Linked DNA regions of Homo sapiens: region 2 is linked to region 1. The links come from fine-mapping of genetic effects on gene expression. Tissue or cell type: whole blood. Region 1 holds a variant in brackets; the other region holds the start of a gene. All regions are shown on one strand. Distances are between the middles of the regions.

Evidence for each region. PIP is the estimated chance that this variant, and not a neighbour inherited with it, causes the effect.
Region 2: APOLD1 starts here. The variant in region 1 is fine-mapped to the expression of APOLD1 in whole blood (TOPMed, PIP above 0.99).

Annotation. Positions count from the first base shown.
Region 1 is chr12:12,828,183-12,836,288 of GRCh38, reverse strand. DDX47 (DEAD-box helicase 47) reads right to left here. Exons shown (of 12, transcript NM_016355.4): 12 at 6,308-6,866. The coding sequence ends at 6,735. Among named protein-coding and RNA genes, the nearest start is that of DDX47, 19 kb to the right of the region's middle. RefSeq lists an enhancer at 203-1,402. The variant T/C (reference allele first, on the strand shown) is at 3,680.
Region 2 is chr12:12,782,326-12,790,431 of GRCh38, reverse strand. APOLD1 (apolipoprotein L domain containing 1) reads right to left here and starts at 4,773. Exons shown (of 2, transcript NM_030817.3): 1 at 4,738-4,773; 2 at 1-3,523. The coding sequence starts at 4,740. The coding sequence ends at 2,780. RefSeq lists silencers at 3,247-3,356, 3,387-3,486.

The DNA of each region.
Region 1 (8,106 bases):
GCAGATGGATCACCTGAGGTCGGGAGTTCGAGACCAGCCTGACAAACATGGCACCCTGCCTCTATTAAAAATACAAAAATTAGCCCGGCATGGTGGCACATGCCTGTAATTCCAGCTACTTGGGAGGCTGAGGTGGGAGAATTGCTTGAATCTGGGAGGTGGAGGTTGCAGTGAGCCAAGATTGCACCATTGCACTTCAGCCTGGGTGACAGAGACTCCATCTCAAAAAAAAAAAAAAAAAAGATTCTGTGACAGAGATAGGCTTGACGGTCTTCTTTCCATATTAACAAATGAGAAAACTCAAGGTTCAGAGAGGTTTAGTAACTCCCACAAGGTCACACAGCAACAGTGAACAGTCCGATGACTTACACTTTCCCCACCTGTTCCTTTCCCAATTCCTCCTGCTCCTTCCGGCCTCTTTGACGGCACTGGCAGATGATTGAAGGGTGACAGTGACAGGAGACATCCTTTGTGTTTGGATGGTATAAGGGGATGGATGGCTACGAGCAAACAAAAGCTCCAAGACTCTGAGCAGACCTTGGGGCCCACCTCCTAGAGACTGCATGGTTCCAGAGGAGCCCATTTTCTTCCTGTCTCCTTTCCACTTGGCACCAATCAGCTCTTCACTTCAGGTGAGACTGTTCAGTGCTATTTCCCAGACTTCAAGTTTCTGCAGTTATTTTTAGCGGTAGTTTTAGTGCATACCTGGGATAGGTGAGGCATGAAAAGGAATGCGGGTGTGGGTAACCCTTCAATCTCTAGAGTTATGGTCTGAGTCTCTTGTCATTCCAGCTAAAGAGGGGTGACTCACACCCTGATTTCTTACCTGCCCAGAGGCTAGATTTCACCCTAAGAACCATGTGGATTAGAATGTCTTGTATATTCTCTTAGTTTTAAGGACACAGTTTCTTGATGTTGCTTTGTTACCCACTTTTGATAACTTGGATCCTTTCATTTTCTGTAACCAACACCACAGCCTGTGGTTCTTTCTGGTCCTATTTCCCAGGGTTTTGAGGGACCCAAGGTAGATAAAGTCTCCAATTTAGGTTTGTGGATGCCTCTGCAGGCAGAAAGCTACTTGGAAAACACTCTGTCTGTAAGCAAGATGTCCTTAAAGAGCCAGCCAAGTTCTGGGATATTCATTGCATTTTTTGAGAGACTGAGAAAGAATAATCATGATCTAGTTGGTCTAGGCCCCTCTTAGCAACTACAATCCCCTCAGAGTGCCCTCAGAGAACCTGCTTCATGGTTCCCTGGAATTCTGGGCCTGCTTTAAGCCTGAAATAGCCTATCCAACTGAAACCCTCTCACTAGGATCCTAGGACCCCTTCATAAGATAGAGAGGTGTTTTCCTCATTCTCACCCTCACTCAGCTCTGTACAGAGGAAGTAAAACTAGGCTAGCCAGTACCATGAAGCCATTGTTACTGCAACTGCATACAATGAATACTATATAAATCAGTTTTATAATTCAGATGAGAAATAAGAAGACATTTTCTCTGGGCTGATATCATATGACTATTCCAAGATACTCCCTTTATTAAGTCATAAAAGTTAGATGTATCTGTTTACAATTAGGGTGGGAGAAGATTGTTTTGAAGCTCACAGTTTCTTTTTTTTTTTTTTTGAGATGGAGTCTCGCTCTGTCGCCCACGCTGGAGTGCAGTGGTGCGATCTCGGCTTACCGCAAGCTCTGCCTTCCGGGTTCACGCCATTCTCCTGCCTCAGCCTCCCCAGCAGCTGGGACTACAGGCGCCCGCCAACACGCCTGGCTAATTTTTTTGTATTTTTAGTAGAGACAGGGTTTCACCGTGTTAGCCAGGATGGTCTCAATCTCCTGACCTTGTGATCCGCCCGCCTCGGCCTCCCAAAGTGCTGGGATTAGAGGCGTGAGCCACCGCGCCCGGCCGGCGAAGCTCACAGTTTCTTAAATCAGGAATGCAGAACTAAGGAGTTGTACCAAGAAGGGAATAGCAGAGGGGTCAGGGACCTCGTTCCCCACTCCTAATCTAGAGCTTTTGGTATCTTGACTGCAAAGGCAATTTACATGTATTTAAGAGAATGACATTTTAACGTTCTTCTATACTCCTATTAATACCTAACCAAATACTTCTGAAGACCCATCTCCTGTCTTCTCCACACTTTGTAACTAGTTCTCCCCACCATTTTATTCCGTAATTGCAACCTTAAACCCCGCAGAATGTAGCAGAGTCCACAAAGATGCCTTGTACTGGGCTGAATAGTATCCCACGAAAAGTCATGTCTACCCATGTATTAATCTGTTTTCATGCTGCTGATAAAGACATACCTGAGACTGGGTAATTTACAAAGAAAAAGAGGTTTAATGGATTCACAGTTCCACGTGGCTGGGGAGGCCTCACAATCATGGTGTAAGGTGAAAGGCACGTCTTACACGGTGGCAGGGAAGAGAGAATGAGAGCCAAGCAAAAGGGGAAACCCCTTATAAAACCATCAGATCTTGTGAGACTAATTCACTACCATGAGAACAGTATGGGGGAAACCGCCTCCAGGATTCAATTACCTCCCACCGGGTCCCTCCCACAACACGTGGGAATTCTGAGAGTACAATTCAAGATGAGATTGGGGTGGGGACACAGCCAAACCATATCAACCCAGAACCTCAGGTGACCTTATTTGGAAATAGGATCCTCGCAGATGTAATTAGTTAAGATGAGGCCAGGGTGGATTAGGGTGCACCCTAAATCCAACAACTAGTATCCTTCTAAGAAGGCCTTGTGAAGACACAAAGATATATGGGGCAGAAGGCCATGTGTGGATGGAGACAGGGATCGGAGTCATGTTGCTACAGCCAAGAAACACCAAGGACTGCAGGCAACCAAGGGGCAATGCTGGCTAAGAAGCCAGGAAGGACTCTTCTCTAAAGGTGTCAGAGAGAACATGGCCCTGCCCACACCTTAATTTTGAACATCTTAAAATCCAGGACCATGAGAGAATAAAGTTGTTATTGAAAGTCACCCAGTTCCTGGTACTTTGTTTCAGTAGTCCTAGGACATTAAAACGTACTTCTGTAAGGGTATCAGCAGCACGACCTATCTCACCTTAGAGGACAGGAGAGCACAGGAATGACTGACTAATAGAGCAAACCTACATGTCTTGTTTTTACTTACTGGTGGATCACGTTCATTTCTGCGCCTCCTGCCTTTTGCAATGGCATCTGTGCATTTTCTGCTGGGGACTCCATGCTCTGGACCTGTTAATATACCTGAAGACACACCCGTCCACATTTCTTTCACTAGTGTCCTTTCTTCCCATCCTAGCAAAGCATAATTATGCATATACATTAGAGATGGCAGTTAAGCTTTCGAGTAGTGGTTTTTAACCTTTTTAGTCTCCCCAAAAATATGCATATTCCTCAGTGGTCCACAAACCCAGGCCAGAGACCACTGCCTATTTGGAAAGTTCAGACATCCTTGAGGATGATTCCAATCTCTCCTTCTTACCCCCTACTGGTACACCAATTCCATTTCAGCTTGCTTCTGAAGTCCTCCACTGAGCTGAAACAGCATCCATGGGCTGACTCGAAGAGAGCTGCTATCCTAAGCCACCCTGGAGAGTCCCATCGAGAAAACACAATGTTAATGGAGAATTAGCCCCAAGTGGGAGGCACAACTCATAACAAATAGGAACAGGTACGGCCC[T/C]GCTCAACCATTTGCCTCCCGATTCTGGTACCCCTTTCTCCTTTCCTTTCCCTTGTATCTCCTACCTCCTCTAAATTATCCTTCACACAAAGGTACCATAATAAGCAGCAATGAAATTCAGAGCAAACAAAACAAAAAGTAAGTTATGCACTGTATTTCAATTCATTGCTAATGCCTTGCCCACAGGTGCCCATTTTAAAATGCATCTGTGGTAGAAAACCCCCCGCCCCGATATTTGCAAAGATCTTCCTGCAGTGAACAGTCCACCCCGGACCATCACAGAGAATTTTATTGCCTTGTACTCTTTTTTTTTCGAGACGGAGTCTCTCTCTGTCGCCCAGGCTGGAGTGCAGTGGCGCGATCTCGGCTCACTGCAAGCTCCGCCTCCCGGGTTCACGCCATTCTCCTGCCTCAGCCTCCCGAGTAGCTGGGGCTACAGGCGCCCGCCACCACTCCCGGCTAATTTTTTGTATTTTTAGTAGACAGGGTTTCACCGTTTTAGCCAGGATGGTCTCGATCTAACCTCGTGATCTGCCCTCCTCAGCCTCCCAAAGAGCTGGGATTACAGGCGTCAGCCACCACGCCCGGCCTGCCTCCTACTCTTTACTCCTCACCAGATACTCTGACTTAGATGGATAAGGAAAGTTTCTTTTCAGCCAAACTTCATTCCAATCTTAATCCATCAAAGTGATTATTTAGACGCTCTTTACCTTGGTTCTGCCACTCCAGACACACTCTTCTAATAAAACTGTTATAGACAACAAAAAGTATTAGGCATCTTCTATGTGTAAACATCCTCAGAACATGAGACTGTTTGTGATTGGGAATTTCCAAGTTGTTTCTGAATTTCAGTAACCCTCCCCCAACAACCAGCCCCTAGAGTGCCAATGCCTACCTCCTCCCCTGGAGCTGAGGCCCCAGCTCTACATCTCCTGCATCGCCTAATAGATGAGGACAAAAAAGATGAGTGGCCAGTGGGCACTAATGACAAGTGGATGAAATTAGGTCTCAGAATTATACATTTCTGAGGCATATTGATTTTATTCTTGTCACCTGGGGAAAAGAATCTACATAAGAGGCAGAGTGGCCGGGTGCAGCAGCGTACACCTGTAATCCCAGCACTTTGGGAGGCCGAGACAGGTGGATCACCTGAGCTTGGGAGTTCAAGACCATCCTGGCCAACATGATGAAACCCTGTCTCTACTAAAAATACAAAAATTAGCTGGGCATGGTGGTGCGTGCCTGTAATCCCAGCTACTTGGGAGGTTGAGGCAGGAGAATCGTTTGAACCAGGGAGTTGGAGGTTGCAGCGAGCTGAGGTCGCACCACTGCACTCCAGCCTGGCAACAGAGCAAGACTCTGTCTCAAAAAAAAGAGGCCAGGTACAGTGGCTTACACCTGTAATCCCAACACTTTGGGAGGCTGAGGTGGATGGATCTCTTGAGCTCAGGAGTTCAAGGCCAGTCTGGGTAACATGTCAAAACCCCATCTCTACAAAAATACAAAAATTAGCTGGGCATGATGGTGAGTGCCTGTAATCCCAGCTACTCGGGAGGCTGAGGCAGGAGAATCGCTTGAACCAGGGAGTCAGAGGTTGCAGTGAGCCAAGACTGTGCCACTGCACTCCAGCCTGGCAACAGAGCAAGACTCCATCTCAAAAAAAAAAAAAAAAAAAAAAAAAAAGAGGCCGGGTGCAGTGGCTCACACCTGTAATCCCAACACTTTGGGAGGCCGAGGCAGATGGATCTCTTGAGCTCAGGAGTTCAAGGCCAGTCTGGGTAACAAGCCAAGATCCCATCTCTACAAAAAATATAAAAATTAGCCAGGCGTGATGGCATGTGCCTGTAGTCCCAGCTACTCAGGAGGCTGAGGTGGGAGATCACTTGAGCCTGGAAGGTCAAGGCTGCACTGAGCTGAGGTCATACCACCGCACTCCACCCTGGATGACAGAGCAAGATTATCTCAAAAAAAAAAAAAAAAGAGTCTATGTGAGAAACCAGTCTTCCTAACCACCTGCTTAATTGAGGGAATGAAGGAAGTAAATCTATTTAGGGATTTTAAAGACCTCTGCTGTCTTACTGATAGACTTTGCTCCATCTGCAAGAAAAACACAACCTCCTTTTTTAAGTAGAACTTCTCTTTTTTTTTGAGACAGAGTCTCGCTGTTGCCCAGGCTGGAGTGTGCAATGGCGCGATCTAGGTTCACTGCAAGCTCTGCCTCCCGGGTTCACACCATTCCCCTGCCTCAGCCTCCCGAGTAGCTGGGACTACAGGCGCCCGCCACCACGCCAGGCTAATGTTTTTTTTGTGTGTGTATTTTTAGTAGAGACAGGGTTTCACGGTGTTACCAAGGATGGTCTCAATCTCCTGACCTCCTGATCTGCCCATCTTGGCCTCCCAAAGTGCTGGGATTACAGGCGTGAGCCACCACACCCGGCTGGGGCTTCCCTTTCAAAGCCATCCATCATCTCGTTTCCTTGTTGATTTTTTTAAGTAATAAATATTTATCTTAATTAGGACAACCAATGAATTTGCCATGTAATCAACACTGTCAGGTTCTTACCTATTAACAAGATCTTACTTAAATCTATAAGGCCCTTTAACACCAAGGTCTTTAAGGAGTTAGAATCTTTTAAAAATAATATTTAAATTTATTGTTTCACATTAGTTTGAATAAAGCACAAGCCAAGATGGTTTAAATATCATTTGCAGATGTCCAAGCTTCTTTACAATTACAGGTCATGGGCATCATCAACCTAGTCCTTGACTTGCAGCTAAAAAAGGCAAAAGGTCTGTGTGAAGTGACAGAAGAGCACACCCTACTCATGTCATGAGCAAGGAATCAAAGTCGAAGAACAGTAACAGTCTTGACATCAGCACTGTAAGAATTACTCTGCAGTAAACTCCAACCCAGAATGGGGAAGAATACTGAATTAGCTGAGCACATTCTGGACACAATTCTGACCAATTTCAGTCTCATGATCTCTGTTGGAGCAGGTTTCATTCTCCAATTCTCTTTTACAGAACAGCAGAACTCGAGCCTTCATAAAAGTGATTAACGGCCTTTCCGCTTCTTCATTTTTCCTCCAGCCACCTTGTTCCTGACACCAATAGCACCCTCTGTGTCATCATTATCTCCAGCATCCTCTCGCGAGCGTTTCTTCTTTTCTCCATGCTCCCTTAACTCCTGCAAGAAAAAAAGAGAGGATGGGATTGAAAATGAATTACTGGCACTGAAGGTTACTCATTCTAGTCCCCTCTCCTTAAGATCAAGTATCAAGTAACTTGCTGATGCCTGACATTAGCAAAGGAACAAGACCCAACTCCAAATATACAAAGATGTTAACCTTATTAGTAATCAAAACGTGAACACTAAAGTAAGGTTTTATTTTCACATGGCAGATTGGCAAAGACTTAAGAGAAGGGTAATCCCCAGTATTGGCCAAGGTGTAGAAAAATTCACATATACTCTCATTTATAGTGCAATCTGCTATAGCTTTTCTTGGGGCGGGGGACAATTTGGCATTCTGTATGAATTCAAATTTTAACTGTGTATGTCCCTTGGCCCAACAAGTGTACTTCTAGGAATTTATTCTAAGGAAGTAAATATGCAAAGCTGTACAAAGTAGGGTGTTTAACACTGTACCAAAGTAGAAAGAAACTGGAAAAAAGCGTAAGCATCCATGAATGTAAGTATTTCATACACATGATGGAATTCTTTGTAGCCATTAAGAAACGATCACATGAATCTGTATTTGTTGAAACAGAAAAATGTTAATCCTATATAATTAGATAAAGTCTAATTATGGCTAAAGAAAGAAAAATAGCCAAATGTTATCAATGGTTTTCTGTGGGGAATGGTTTACCTTTTCACTTACTACTTTAATCCTTTCTGTATTTTTTGAATTTTTTTCCCAATGCACATGTAATACTTTTACAAACAAAAAAATCCCATGTGGACAGAATAAAAACCAAATGTGCACCTCAGCTACTCCAAAAACAAACTATGGGCAAAGTTTCTCCATCCCTCAGACCAGAACTCCAGAAAGCAGGCAGCACTTCCAATGGTTTTCCTCTAGAATCTTCTCATCACCACTATTACTGTTACTACTACTTACAGGGTGAGTATCCCTTATCTGAAATGCTTGGGACCAGCAGTGTTTCGGACTTCAGATTTTTTCTAATTCTAGAATATTTGCAGATACATATGAGCTATCTTGGGGATGGGGCTCAACTCTAAACACAAAATTCACTTGTTTCATATATACCTTATATATGAAGGTAATTTTACACAATATTTTTAATTGTCTGAAGGTAATTTTACATCATATTTTTAATATTTTTGTGCATTAAAAACATTTTGACTGTGTCTTGATAGCAACCTGTCACACGAGGTCAGGCATGGAATTTTCCACTTGCGGCAATCC
Region 2 (8,106 bases), 46 kb after region 1:
GGAATGGTTGTACCTTTATGCCATAACACAACTAATAATGTGAAGTACATTCTAAAATGATTTAAAATGATTGTGAAACAAAACAATTCATCTAAAATGAATTGTTTGATCTAAAATGCTAGCATCTGGCCAGGCGAGGTGGCTCATGCCTGTAATCCCAGCACTTTGGGAAGCCAAGGTGGGCGGATCACATAAGGCCAGGAGTTCAAGACCAGCCTGGCCAACATGGCGAAACCCTGTCTCTACTAAAAATACAAAAAATTAGCCGGGTGTGCTGGTGCACATCTGTAATCCCAGCTACTCAGGAGGCTGAGGCAGAAGAATTGCTTGAACCCAGGAGTCGGAGGTTGCAGTGAGCCGAGATCAAACCACTGCAACTCCAGCCTAGGTGACAGAGTGAGACTCTGTCTCAAAAAAAAAAAAAAAATGCTAGCATCTGGGTGAAACAGTCTAGGAGATGACACCAGCTTGAAAAGAAACCAATATAAATTTCAAAATAAACCAGCATACAGACCAATTGCAATTTATAGAAAAAATAAAAATGTAGAAACATCACCTCCTCTCCCCGACCCCAGTACTGAAATTATACTTCCTCAGACATACTGCCCCATCACTGGGAAGGGTGCGGACAGATTGGGTACATTTATAGAATATTAAATAATTAAGTAACAGAGGCACCGTTTTTGCATGTATGGTCCCAAAGACTTTTCAACTTATTTTTCAACATTACAGTTGTTAAGAATGGAAATTGAAGGAATTGTACATATTTTCACTGACAGTTTCTTACAGACCCCAAAGTGAAAATGCAACACATCACCACCATAAGACAAGCGATTTTGTCTGTCACCCAGAAGACATAACTTGATAGGACATCAGGCTTGCAAGTTCTAAGTGCTTCCTTCACATACCTCTAAACTTTTTATCTTTCCTGAACTAAATAGATTCCTTTTCCAGGTCAAGTGATACCTTCTGGCAAAATACCTTCAGGATAAATATGCTTCCTCAGTTATATATCCCACAATGCAAGCTTCCATTACAAGCTTAAACTCAGCTCCTGGTCTTGCCATTCAAGACTCTCCACACTTACTTCAAAGGATCACTTAAAACACTAGAGAAAAAGAATCTCCCTGAAGGAGAGAGACAATCAAGGAAAGCAATGCTATTTCCAGCTCATGCCCTGCCTTAGAAACTCAAACTTAATCTCATCTCTTGCAAAGAGCCTCAGCAGTCTCCCATTTAGAAACTTGCTCTTATTATTTTCTAAATGTGGTGATTAAATAAAATTAAATGCAAACACTAAACAATAATTAAAAATTAAATTACAAACTTAAAATAAATAAAAAATACATGGACTGGCACTTTTCAGAGAAGGTAATAATAGACAAAGGTCAGTTTCAGGAACTTCATATTCCTTTCTGTACCAGTTTCTACAACAGGCGGGAAACACTGCCCCCTAATGGGCTTTTAGTGTTACATCCCTTGTTCATACGGTGAGACACTGCCCCAGGGTGCACGTACGCGTGCTCTCTCTCTCTCTCTCTCATTTTGGCTTCTGGGACACAGTCTGTCCTTGGTCATCTGTGAACGACTCTGAAGACCATGGAGTCCCTAGAGAAGCCGTGAGACTTCGTGAAAGCTCATCAAGGGGATTAGAAGTTAGCATTTGTTGCAGTGATTTTCAAACCTTAGTGTGCCGCAGAACCACCCAGAGAAATTGTTTAAACTCAGGTTGCTGGGCCCCACAGCCAGAGTTTCTGATTCCATAAATCAGGAGGGTTGTGTCCAAGAATTTGCCTTTCTAACAAGTTCCTGGGTGATGTTAATTTGCCATTCCAGGGACTACACTATATGAGCCAGCACCATCATGCTAGGCACTTTGGCTCATTTAATATCTCACAACAGGGTGAGATTTTATCATCTTTGTTTTACACAGTCTCAGAGAGATTAGGTGGCTACACTCACACAGTAGTGACAAAGCCTGTCTCAAGCCCAGGACTGTCTAACTCAAAACCCATCACTCTCTTCTGAACACAATGATGTCGGGAAATGAAGTTGGCAGTCGCTCCATCTATCTGGCCCTCAGCTTCATGTGAGGGAGCAGGACTTAGATGACGGCTTCACGGGCTTCCCCTCTGAGTACTTGGAGGACTGGATTGGGAGCCACTCAGGAAAGGCCTACTTCATACCCAGGCCGCATCTGGGAGTAAGTAAGCTGAGGGGAAAGGGAAGAGGAGGAGATATCAGCACCAGGGTCCTCTCTGGGTTCTGAACCATCCTACAACGTTCAGAGAAGGGCTGATTTGCTCTGGATTCTGGAGTTCTTTGTATCAGAAATTCTGGAATAGAGGCAAACGCCTTCCTCACGCACATTTTGAGGACTTCAAAGACTAGTAGGACTTGGAGAGGACCCAGAGGATGGCACTCTCTCCAGTCTCAGGCCAAGCCACCAGGGCAGGGTCAGGGACCCCGAAATAACTTTAAAACAGGAGTGCCTGCCCAGCTGTGTTTAGACAGAAAGTTTTTGATAAAGGAAAAAGAGTTTTTGGGTCACATTTTTCCACTAGGAAGACTGAAAAGTCCGTAGCACTCAAGCCCAGGCAGATGTCACAGTGATGGGAAAAGAAGGGCTTTGGGGACCTGCCCACTTCAAAAACAGTTTTTCTCATCCTTTGCCTTCGGCTCCTAACCCAGCTTGGTGTTTTCCTAAGGGAGCTACAAATTCTGGAGCATCCCATGAGGATGATTTGCTGGCCTCGGTCATTAGGGGGAAAGGATGTTCTCAGAAAAACAGCCCTGCACGCTGGTCAGCAGAGATCTTGAGGTCGTGGCCACGACTGGACTTGGTGCAGAGCTGAACCCGAGACTCCAGCTGCTCGCTGAGTTCGTCCAGAGCCCCGGTGCAGGACTCCAGGCTCTCGGCCAGTTTCTGAATCTTGGCCTTCAGCACGGCCTGGCTAACCTTGGTGTCCCCCTCCGCCCGCCTGGGGATGAGGAAGCCACGTGAGCCAAAGAAGACGATGAAGTAGACAGAATTGTACAGGGCGATGGAGGCGTTCCTCCCGCACTGCAGCAGCTGGCGGTCCCCGCAGCCCTGCCAGCGGCAGAAAAACTCGAGGCAGCTCAGGATCTCTCGCATCTGGTCCTGGCAGGTGGCCGCGATCTCCTGCACCCTCCGCAGCTCCCGGGAGTTGCAGAAGATCAGCGAGAGATCGGACGTGATGGTGACGGCCCCTCCGGCTGTGGCCACCCCCAGCCCCACGGCCGACACCAGCAGCGAGGTCCCCAGGGTGACCGGGCTGAGCGAGAGCCCCACGATGGCGGCGAGGGCGCCCGTTGCGCTCAGCGAGCTGCCGGCCACGTTGGCTACGAGGGAGCGCCTGCGCAGGCGCTCCAGGCGCCGGGCCACCTCGCGCAGGCGCAGCACCTGGCCGTGCAGCCGGCCTCGGCGGTCCAGCAGCAGTCCCTGGAAGCGCCGCAGCGCGTCGGGCCCATGCGGCTCCCGGGCCGCCGGCCTCTCCATTCCCTGCGGGGACATAGACACGCGGTCAGCCTGGAGTCTCCGTGCCAGCCGCCGCTCCCGCCCTGCTGCCCGGACGCCAGCGGGAACTTGGCACGAGTTCAGCGGAGCAGCCACTGCCACGCTAGGGGAACGGGTCTGTTTCCAGTGGATCATGAGACGAGTTCTCAAAGACCTGTTCTGGAATCCGGGGGGAGCCACACAAGTTCTCAGGACCTTATCTCTGCATATGGAAATAGGAATAATGCTATCTTCTGCTTCTCTCCCAGGGAACGTTAACGATGGGCTTCATCAGCTATGTGTTAAATAAGATTTAAACTGGGAGGGGCGTGGTATTAGAAGGCTTCTCCAGTACTGAGGCCTTTGCTCTACTTAAGATAACACTTTGTAAGTGGTGGGTTGTACAGTTTACAAAGCCCTTTCATCATGTGAAAATTGGATCCTAGGAGTTTTGCAACACACTTTTCTCTCTCTCTAATGAATGAAAAAGACTTCACCAAAACCTCAAAAATCGTATTTTCTACCAAGCAGAAGAAACATCTAAGTTAGATGCTTGCCTGAAGCAACTCTTCTGCTTGTGATTCTTCCAGGCTCTTTTCTTAGAATCAAGCCTAAAATGAGATTTGCACTGTTTATTCTAACTAGGGCTCCTTGGATCTTCAGAAACATCAGTCTTTGCTGGGTGCTTGATTTAAACTAAGTCACATTAAATTAATACCATTATGTCTCTTTGTTATGAAAGTTTTCTTTTAAAAATGAGTAATGGTTGAATAAAATAAAGTGGCCAAAATTTTTGTTCAACAACTTCTACCACGTTGAAGCCAACTGAAGATGACTGACAAAGATACGAACAAGTTGTACATCTTGGGGGAAAAGTATATTCATCCTAGTTGCAGATTCCCACCTTCATGTCCACTGTACTCTTCATTATTAGGAACTTCTTAAAAGTGGCAAATGAGCCATAGAAATAGAGCATTTCAAAACTGAGCTATCAGGGCAGAAATCATTCTCATCTGGAAGAATTGCCTGCATCAGACATCAGATTCTAGAAGCAGCTGATTCTTCACAGAGCCCAGTCTAGAATCCTCATCTCCTTATTCACAGGACTTAATTTTACTTCCATGCTTCCATAATCCAACCCACCAGGGATAATTTTCCAGGTGAAAAGAGAAAATGAGAAAAAGTCATCCCGAATATATGCCTCAGGGTTCCCCACTTACCATTCACTTCTGTCTGCCTCCAGGAAAGTAAAATCTGAGGCTGTTTCTGGATGAGTGTGCTTTATAGTTCCAGAGAACCAATGGCTGCCCTGGGAAAGCCTTGTCTCATTCTGAGAATTTGCCATTTCCTGTCATGACCCCTGCTGCCTTCATCTAGAAGGACGTGACATGGTGGAAAATGACCTGCCAGCACAGCACATCCCGTATTTAGGAAACGAACATTGTGTGTTCGCTTTCCCCTGAACGCAGGAAGAGAACCACAGGCTCTTCCCTAACTTGAAACAAGTGTGTTGTCATTCTCCCAGTGGGATACCCTGCCTTTCCTGAGAATAGCTAATGACGCGATAGAGAAGGCCTTCAAACGCACCCCAGGCTGACCAATTATAGTGTTTCTTGAGGCCACCATTACAAAATCATATTTTAAAAGAAAAGGGAGGGGGTGGAAAACCCTCATATCTGACATAGCCGCTCATACTCCACTGCTGTATTTTTAAAAGCGTTGTGAATCTGTGAGTGGCTGGAGCCTGGGATCATTTGGCATGCAGCGGGTACCCTGCAGTCCTAAGAATGCAAGGCCACACCCACAGGAAGTGCTGCGTGCAGTTTTGGGCATCTCCAGCTGTGGAGAAGACATTGGCGGTCTCAGAAAGGGCACACTCCAGGTCACATGCATCAGAAAAATCAGTGGGGTCAGGCTGCATGAGGAGCTAATTGTACACTTTCAACCACAATAGGGCATTGGCTTCCCAGGTTTTCATTTGAAGTAGCAATTGTAGCCCATGTGATAGGGAAATGAGTGGATTCTGTCTACAGGGTCATGAGGCATGGGCTGAAGGGCAATTATTTTGATAATTCAGCACAGAAAAGTGAATGTAGCTTCTGTGGACTTGCTGCAGACCAGACCAGATGGAACATAGATATCTCTGGGGCATTCAGAGGTGGTTGGAGCTCAGCCTAGGAATTCAGTCCTACTACATGTCCCCAAATCCATCCATCGTCCTTCTAACCCTCTCCTCCAGATAAGGAGGGCCAAATTCGTTTCTCACTTGAATAAGGATTATCTCAACTCTCTGGCTTACCTGGAAAGCCTTAACAGCCGTATCATTCTGGAACATGATTAAATCCCCCACCTTTATGACTATACTTTGTATTTATCAACACAGTATAACAACAGTAGCAACAGAAAGGACAACCATAGTCCTTTCAAACTTGATTATTCTAGATTTGGTCCACTTCCAAATATTCTTGTTACAGCTCCTCAAAGGATAGCTGTAACCTCAATCTAGATGCCTCCAGTGTGTCCTTTTGAGGTTAGAAGTGGAAGAATATCCTCCTCTATCTCCATAGACATGGTCACTCCAAATGGGATGTGGGCCAGCGCGAATTGGGGAGGTAGACAAGAGGGAACATACCACTGATTCTTCAGCTGACACATGTTCCTCTAACTTCCCTGGACATCATCCTGTGTGTTTTGGGTTTAGAGGAACACAATTAAATCTTTATTTTATAGATGAGGAATATTGCTGGGATACAGGGTCTTCCTCAGAGCATCAATATCATAGTACAGAGGTGGGATGAAGAACCAGAAGGTAGAGGAAAATAGACAGCGTGTATACTGACCTCAGCCCATATCTTGGAATTTGTTTTTCTCTGTGTTGAAAGCCCATTTTCTTTGTATTTGCCTCTTTATGGAGGCAAAAAAAATTGAGTTAATTGACAGTTTGGGCTAAAGTTTTACTGCCCATAAAAACCTGGTACTTTGGCCAGTCATGGTGGCCCATGCCTATAATCCCAGCACTTTGGGAGGCAGAGGAGGGAGGGTCGCTTGAAGTCAGGAGTTCGAGACCAGCCTGGTTGACATAATGAGACCCCATCTTTACAAAAAATTTAAAAATTGGCCGGGCATAGTGACTCACACCTGTAGTCCTAGCTATTCAGGACGCTGAGGCAGGAGGATCACTTGCACCCAGGAGGTCAAGGCTGCAGTGAGCTATAATGGTACCACTGCAACACAGCCTGGATGATAGAGACCTTGTCTCAAAAAAAAAGCAAAAAAAAAAAAAACAAAAAAAAACCAACTGGGGCCGGGTGCAGTGGCTCACCCCTGTAATCCCAGCACTTTGGGAGGCTAAGGCTGGTGGATCACCTGAGGTCAGGAGTTCGAGACCAGCCTGACCAACATGGTAAGACCCCGTCTCTACTAAAAATACAAAAAAAACAGCTGTGTGTGGTGGCGTGCTCCTGTAGTCCCAGCTACTCAGGAGACTGAGGCAGGAGGATCACTTGAACCTGGGAGGCAGCAGTTGCAGTGAGCCGAGATCACACCGCTGCACTCCAGCCTGGGTAACGGAGTAAAACTCTGTCTCCAAAAACAAACAAACAAACAAACAAAAAACCCAACTGGTACTTCACCTTGTTTATAAGAACTGACACTTGAACTTAGCGATTCAATTCAGCATTTGTTTACTTTTATTTATTTATTTATTTTTGAGACGGCGTCTCAGTCTGTCGCCCAGGCTAGAGTACAGTGGCATGATCTCAGCTCACTGCAATCTCCGCCTCCCAGATTCAAGCAATTCTCCTGCCTCAGCCTCCCGAGAAGCTGGGATTACAGGCGTGCACCACTACACCTGGCTAATTTTTGTATTTTTAGTAGAGACGGGGTTTCGCCATGTTGGACAGGCTGGTCTCGAACTCCTGACCCCGGGTGATCCACCTGCCCCAGCCTCCCAAAGTGCTGGGATTACAGGCATGAGCCACCATGCCCAGCCAGCATTTGTTTAATTTCATATAGTAAAGACACAATAACAAATTTTAGGAACAAATGAAGGCATTTTGTTCAAAAGTTCTGTGTGGTCAGTTTCCACAAAAAAAAATCTGTGGACCACATCCTCAGACTTCTCTTTTAAATTGTTTGTTGGGCACTTCCAACACATCACCCTAGAGAGACTACACTGAAAATGGTAGTTGGCCTTCAAACTAGCCTTCAGATCTGTTCAACTCTTTTTTTGTTTTGTTTTGTTTTGTTGAGGCAGGGTCTCACTCTGTCACTCAAGTGGGAGTGCAATGGCACCATCACGCCTCACCGCAGCCTTGACCTCCTGAGATCAAGCAATCCTCCTGCCTTATTTTTTGACTTTTTGTAGAGACAAGTTGTCACTGTGTTAAACTCTTGATGCAGCTGAACCGCGGCATTAGCTGTACTAGTTTGAATTCTGAGTCCTCGAACCATGAGGAAATTCAGTGTAGGAAGGACGAGAAAGAGCTTTTTAAGCATAGGAATCTTCAGGCCCCAGCCCTGGAGAGTCTAATTCAAGAGGTCTGGAGTGGGATCTGGGAGAATACAGGTGATTCCTACCTGCAGCCAGG